Homo sapiens: one gene and its partner. The protein of the gene in region 1 purifies or fractionates together with the protein of each later gene. This does not show direct contact. Each region holds a gene or a part of one and is shown on either strand. Other genes may lie near its edges.

The links. Proteins that work in one complex are often made in the same cells at the same time.
Region 2: the proteins of GLS (region 1) and SIRT5 purify together in Homo sapiens (affinity purification with western blotting; 3 studies listed by BioGRID and IntAct, with this or other methods). This does not show direct contact.

What each region holds. Positions count from the first base shown.
Region 1 is NC_000002.12:190,904,765-190,908,515, forward strand, and holds part of GLS (glutaminase kidney isoform, mitochondrial isoform 1 precursor), read left to right. Parts: intron 1-239; coding exon 240-403; intron 404-3,751. UniProt on the Homo sapiens protein: Catalyzes the first reaction in the primary pathway for the renal catabolism of glutamine. Plays a role in maintaining acid-base homeostasis. Regulates the levels of the neurotransmitter glutamate, the main excitatory neurotransmitter in the brain.
Region 2 is NC_000006.12:13,572,629-13,576,379, reverse strand, and holds the start of SIRT5 (NAD-dependent protein deacylase sirtuin-5, mitochondrial), read right to left. Parts: upstream 1,780-3,751; 5' UTR 1,636-1,779; exon of another isoform or gene 1,009-1,635; intron 1-1,008. UniProt on the Homo sapiens protein: NAD-dependent lysine demalonylase, desuccinylase and deglutarylase that specifically removes malonyl, succinyl and glutaryl groups on target proteins.

The DNA of each region.
Region 1 (3,751 bases):
ATATAAGGGACTTGAGTGTCCATGGAGTTTGGTATCACAGGGATTCCTGGAATCCACCTCCCACAGATATCAAAGGATGACTGTACTTAAATTTATTCTGTAATTTTGACATAAACTTGTGGTTGAATTATGGGAAAATTTTTGTTGGAATTGTTAACATGTAAAAAGAATAATTCCAACTATGCAGTTACATTTTTTTCCCAGTTGATGTTATTTTTTAAAAATCTCCTTTTAAATAGGCATTCTACTGGAGATACCAAAGTTCCCTTCTGTCTTCAGTCCTGTGTAAAACCTTTGAAATATGCCATTGCTGTTAATGATCTTGGAACTGAATATGTGCATCGATATGTTGGAAAAGAGCCGAGTGGACTAAGATTCAACAAACTATTTTTGAATGAAGATGGTAAGAATTACATAAACATTGGTTGAAAAAAGAAATGTCTCATTTTCCTATGTAAATCTAAGTCGTTTTAAACATTTTTTGATTAAAATTAAAAGTATTTGTCATGTGATTTCTATATAATCCATTGAGAGAGTTTCATCACCTACTTTTAAAAATGATTATTTTAGGCATCTCATACCACTGGGAAGTGGGCTAGGGAGAACATGAACTTCTCTCTTCATAACCACCTTTAGGGAAATATAGCGAAATCTCAAAATACATGAGATTTGCTTTAAAATAATTTAGTTAAGGCAGCTGGGAGTGCTGGGTATGATTATTACTATATGTTGGTAATTATTGCAGCTAAATGATAGGTGCATGGGTGTTTGTATATTATTCTATCTATTATATTGTATATAGTAGTTGAAAGTTTTATTGTGGCCCTGGTTGAGATAGTGAGGATTATTATTTTTCAGTGAGTGTTTTTACTTTTTATCCTTATAACATTAAAAAATTTGAAAGAAATGCTTTGTGTTTAATGCTTGGTTAACAAATCTTTTTACAGGAATTCAAAAGAAAAGGGGAGGACAAAAGTAGTTAGTTTGATCTGATAGAGATTTTAAGTCTAAACATCATTTAGCTGAGTGCAAACTAAGTTAAACTAGTCCCATGGTTTGGTTTCTGTTTTTTAATCTTCTAAGCATATGCTGTGTTTCTGATTGATGAGTTAAGATATAGAATTGAAGAAAGTGAGAGCGAAGTTTGTAGTAATGGCTGTGAGAGATACACTTTTGTACTTTTTTTTTCTGCTGTATAAAAAATGAAATGTGCCTTATACTCATTATTTTATTAGTTTGTAAGATGAAGTCATAAGACTGGTATTTTCTTATGCTTCTCATCCTATTTATTTTGAGAGCAGTTACATTTTCTTTCCCATTTTACCGTAACCTTTTTATTCTGATGCTACGTTTGGTTTTATGGACATTACTGTAAATTAACAACTTCAATAAGGACATCATATGCAGAAGCACTTTATTTACTAAGCTCATTGACATCTAGATTTAATATTGAAAGAATTAATACTGTTATTCTAAAAATACCAAATATTTTAAAAGAAAAATTTAATACTTTTCCATGAACAGCAAAGGAGAATAGACATGTCTAGTGAATTGATGGATTTCGAGGGAGATATTTAAGAAAAAACAAATATAGTAATTTGAATGTTTAGAGGATTTCAGAAACAAAAAAACAAAATGGGCTTGGAGCAAATGAAATTAACAGTATAAGTAATGAATTTTTTTGCCATATATATTTATGGTTTTAGGAATCATGAATTATTGATACTGTATTCTATATAAGAAAAAATGACAAATCAGAGATTTAGAATTGTTTATAATAAGAATAAAACATAAAGTTTAACAAGAGATTTTGCCTCGATATTCATAGACGTTTTCTAAGCCTGAGCCAACACCCTGAGTCTTGAAAGTAACAGTAAATACAGGCTTCACTATATTACACCTTCCTGAATTCTGATTAGAGCCTGTGCTCTTGAGTCCTGATTTAGTTTAGCCCAGCAAAAACAATTTGAAGATCTCGTTCATATTTAAAATTGCAAGGGTAGATTTTTGGTGAAACCATACACTTTTTGTGTGTGTATGTATATATGTGTGTATCTAAAATAATAAATTTTTAAAAAATAAATATATTACTGTTACACCAGCTTTATAAGATTGTGATGATTTATTAAGACTAATAGGGATATGGTAAATAGAGAAATTGTAGTAGTTTTTTTTTTTTTTTTGAGATGGTGTCTGGCTCTGTCCCCCAGGCTGGAGTGCAGTGGCATGATCTCGGCTTACTGCAAGCTCTGCCCCCCGGGTTCACGCCATTCCCCTGCCTCAGCGAGTAGCTGGGACTACAGGCACCCGCCAGCACGCCTGGCTAATTTTTTGTATTTTTAGTAGAGATGGGGTTTCACTGTGTTAGCCAGGATGGTCTCGATCTCCTGACCTCGTGATCTGCCCGCCTCGGCCTCCCAAAGTGCTGGGATTACAGGCTTGAGCCACTGCACCCGGCAGTAGTTTTTAATAACAGTAGTTTTTTTTTTTTTTTGAGACGGGGTTTCACTCTTGTTGCCCAGGCTGGAGTGCAGTGGCGCAATCTCGGCTCGGCGCAATCTCGGCTCACCGCAACCTCCGCCTCCCGGGTTCAAGCGATTCTCCTGCCTCAGCCTCCCGAGTAGCTGGGATTACAGGCATGTGCCACCACCCTGGCTAATTTTGTATTTTCAGTAGAGACGGGGTTTCTCCATGTTGGTCAGGCTGGTCGCGAACTCCCAACCTCAGGTGATCTGCCTGCCTCAGCCTCCCAAAGTGCTGGGATTACAGGCGTGAGCCACCACACCTGGCAATAACAGTAGTTTTAAAATGTTTGCAACATAGAAAGTTTTGGTAGGAGGTGGCTGATATTTTTTATCATTATAAGTGAGCAAACAAGTTACTTTATGGAGATGTCAGTTTTGCAAACTACCATCTCCCAGGGAAGTCTTTTTCTACCTTGTAGTGATCGGGTTAATCAACAAATTATTTATATAGCTTTCCTTGTCTGTATTGTTAACAGCTCTGGAGGGTACATGGGCCTTGCTTCTTGGAATAACTTTTCTGACTACAGGATACAGAAGGCAATTACATATTTCTAATACATAATGGGAGAAGACATACTTAAGCATTGAATACTGTTAGTTGTATTATCTTACAAGTATGTAATTGACAGGTGCCAAAATGTATGTGCTGATTATATGTGTGGAGGATTGAGAAAAAAGAGGAGTTGAGTTAATTTACATGAGGATGACAGGACTGAATTGATAGGATGAATTGTGGATGGTTGGGAAGAATGTGAGAGGGCACTGCACATTTTTTCCAACCATCCTCAATGGGCACTGCACATTCTTCGTAACCATATATATCCCAACCAGATGGAGAATATTTTCTCTATATCTAGAGAATATATTGTAAATGTGTGTAATGTCAGATAATTGAGTTTCCTTAACTCCAGTTTTTATTTGGCACTGTAAAATTCCAATATAATACCGAAAATATAAATATCCAAATTAAATTGGAAATCCTTTTTAATATTTTTCGTTCTTTAGTATATGTATTAGCAAACTTTGCCTCAGCCTCACCTGTGAACAAAACCCTTGTAAGGTTCATATGCTTAGCAGCTTGAAAAGCTTCTTTTGATATAATATGAAAGAATGCTGTGTATTTTATTGCCTTTGGGGAAAATAAATACTTGTTAAAATTGATCTTTTTTTGCATTATAGTTTAAAGCATGTTCATAAATTTCAGATGTCACCCATGTCCATTTTGT
Region 2 (3,751 bases), on another chromosome or scaffold:
AAATCACACTGAGCTACCACCTCACGCTTGTTAGAATGGCTATTATAAAAAAGATCAAAGACAACAAGTTTTGTCCAGAATGTGGAGAAAAGGGAACCCTGGTACACTGTTGGTGGAATGTAAATTAGTACAGCCATTTTGGAAAACAGTATGGAGGCTCCTCAAAATCTAAAAATAGAATTACCACATGACCCAGAAATCCTACTTCTGGGTATATATACAAAGGAATTGAAATCAGTATGTTGAAGAGATAGCTGCATTCCTGTGTTGTTTTCAGCATTATTCACAATAACCAAGATATAGAAGCAACTAAGTATCCATCAACTGAGGACCGGATAAAGAAAATGTGGCACATATATACAATGGAATACTATACAGTCTTAAAACAGAAGGCAATTCTGTCATTTGCAACAACATGGATGAACCTGGAGGACATGAGGCCAAGTAAAATAAGCCAGGCACAGAAGGACAAACAGCACATGATCTTACTTATATACTTGGGGTCTAAAAAAGTTGAACTCATAGAAGCAGAGTAGAATGATGGTTACCAGGGGCCTGGCAGAGGGCTGATGTGGAAGGGAGGGATGTTGGTCAAAGGATACAAAGTTTTAGTTAGGTAAGAGGAGTAAGTTTTAGTGATCTACTGCACAGCATGGTGACCATAGTTGATGATGTATTGTATATTTCCAGGAGAGTAGATTTTCACCACAAAAAATAAGTAGGTGAGGTGATGGATATGTCAATTAGCTTGATTTAATCTTTCTACAATGTATACATATATCAAAACATTACACTGTACGCTATAAATATATAAATTTGTCAATAAAAATAATTATATAAATATATATTTATATAAAACAAAATACATGCTAAGGATAATGCAATGAACTGCAAAAAGTTGTACAGGCTCCCAATAAATAATTTTTGAACGCCTAAGAGCTAAATAAATGCAATACATCACTCCCAGGTGTCTCCACTAGGGGGCCCCATTCCCTCCCGTTCCATCACCTGCTTTCCTCAAGGTCGTCTCCACCCTCCTATTTGTTGATACCCGGCCTCTGACCCAGTTCATCACTTTCCCGGGCTTCCGGGCGCCACCCTCTTCAGGTTTTCCTCCTACCCCTCCAGCCCTGCCCCTCTGGATCTCCCATCCTCCCAGCGCGCCAGACTGCATGCGGCCTCCCCGCCCTGTGTCCAAGAGGCAGCTTCCACTCCACGCGGGCAAGCCTGAGCTCCAGAGCCGTCCTCAAGCCGCCTCCCCCCGAAGCACTGGGACTTCATCCTCCCGGCTACTACTCGTGCCCAGGGACTAGGCCCTGAGCCTTCCCTTCTCGCACGCCCCATAGCCAAGCTGCTCAGCAGAACCTGACGGCTCCACCTTCAAACTACGTCCGGAATCCGACCCCTCTCCACGCCCACTGCCTCCACCCCGGCCACCTTCCTCGGTCACCCTGGCAGCTGCAATGACCAGGGTGACCTTTCTGAAAAGGGAGGCTCTGTTCGGAGCCCTCGCGGGGCTCCCCAGCACAGCGGCCTCCCATGCCCACCTGCTCGGGTGGGATTACTTTCCAACCCCGTTTCCATCCCCCTCCCTGGTCTCCAGCCGCAGCGACCCCCACGCAGAGCCCGGAAGACCTTGGGCCCCGCACATGCTGCCGGCCCGCTAAGAGCTCTGGGTACCCCCGGAGCGCCTTCCAGGCTTTCTCCTAGAGGCGCTGTGTCCCGACCGCGCTCCGGACCTGAGCCACGGCTCACCTGGGGCAGCTCGCGCCCCCGAATACAGTCTCCCACGCCCCGCCCCCCGGGGTGCCTCCCTCCCAGCTCTCTGTACCCACCCACCATCCCCCACATCCCTTCCTCCAACCGCTAGCCAGTCACCAGCCCGGGACCGCAGGGCAGAGGCCGGGCCGCGCATGCGCACCGCGGACCGGTGCCACCTCCGCTCGCGAGCCCGCGGCAGGCCCTGGGCGGTGCGCGCAGTCCCGCGAGAGCAGTGCTTGGTCGGGACCTCGAAGCCGGAGCCCGAGCGGGAGAGGCCGCGGAGACCCCGGCCCGGCGCAGGCAGAGACGCACCTGCGGGAGGCGGGCGCGCCGGCTGGAGAGGAGGCCGTGGGGCGGAGCGGCTCAGCGTTCTGCTCGGCTGCAGCGGCCCCTGCCGGAGACCCGGGCGCCGTGGTCTTCTTTATAATTGAAGGATTGTCTCTCTGTTTTTATTTGGGGTGGGGGTGGGGGTGGGGGGCGGCGCAGTGACTTGCTTCGACTTTGTCAGCTTCCAGGGTTCATTCCACTGCCCAAATATGTAGTGAGTTACTACCGGCTTTGCTTCCTCCTTCAGCAAACGGCTGGACCACACAACTTCAGGAGAGAGGATTTTAAATGTTAGGGTCATTTTCCCTAAAACGATTTCAAATGACGGTGAGTTGGTTCCCAGGCTAGGCCACCTAACCTCGAACGCAATGACGAGTGCACTCTGACTGCTGAGCTGAGAGCCTTCCGTGGCTCTGGGACCCAGTGACTCACGTGGCTCCGCATGTCCCCGTTCCCTTAAAATCGGAGTCTTTCCTTTTCTTGGATTCCGGCTTGCCACCAGCACCACTTGGCAGAATGGAATTGCTTGCGGGCATGTCAGTGGACTAGAAAGGGAAGTAAGTGGTCTGAGAACTTGGGGGCCAAAAATGTTACATTAACATTTTTTGCCTACCTAAAATCTCAGCCACTTCCCACAGTTTGGCTGGAAATTCAGCCCATGTTGAGGCCCTTCTCATTCCTGCAGGTGTTACCAGCAACTCAGAGGTTTATGGAGTAACGAAATTGGGGAGGGCCTCACATCCGGCTGCTGTTTTTCCCCCTAACGTGTATGGTGCTTATTCTGAGCCAGACACTTTTAAGAACTGCACATTATTAACCATTTTAAATCGTCCCCACCACCTGATGAAATAGGTACTGTTATCCCCACTTTATGGGTGGGGAAACCGAGGCCCAGGGAGGTCAAGTAACTGCGCAAAGCACAAAACTGTTGAGTAGTAGTGTTACCAGGGCAGTCCTGGAGAAATCGCTCAGAGGGCAAAACTGAGAGCTCATTATTTTCTTAAACAGTAGACAGCTGAAAATGCTCATTGTTTTTTAAACCGTTTTGTTTGTTTGATTTTTTTTCCTAGTCTCTTTATCTATAGGTAACCCAGCTTAAAACAACTGCGGTTGGCCCGGGATCCTCACTGCCCTTTGCCAAGTACCAGAGAAAGATAAGGCCTACTAGGAACCAGAGAAAACCAGAACCAGCCACCCCTTGTTACTTTTAGATCATTAATACATCATTATATGCTCAACTCCCGACCCGTAGAAGAGAATCGCCGCCATTTTCTGATAGTGCATTGTATGAAGAGGCATGTTTATGAAATGCACCTGTGCGTCTAGAGTTCCTCCCGGCATATGCTTGCATACCTCCCCACTCCACATCTAACGCCTTACAATTCCCCAGCTTCCCAAAGCTCTGGAAGAAGGGGGTCTTTAGAGTGAAAGTTTACTCCTTCTCTATTCCTGGCCAGGAATGAAACCCGCTTGCCGTTTTTTCCAGTTGGTGTGCTTTCTTTGCAACTGATACAGACTAGGAAAAGAACGCAATTTACCAGTAACAGTAGAGCTGGGATTTAAATCTAAGTGCTTTGACTTCAAAGACAAGGTTCCAAGCTGCTACACATACCAATTCTCGTTAAAGTGTATTCCATTTCTTTTGTGCTTTCATATTGACCAT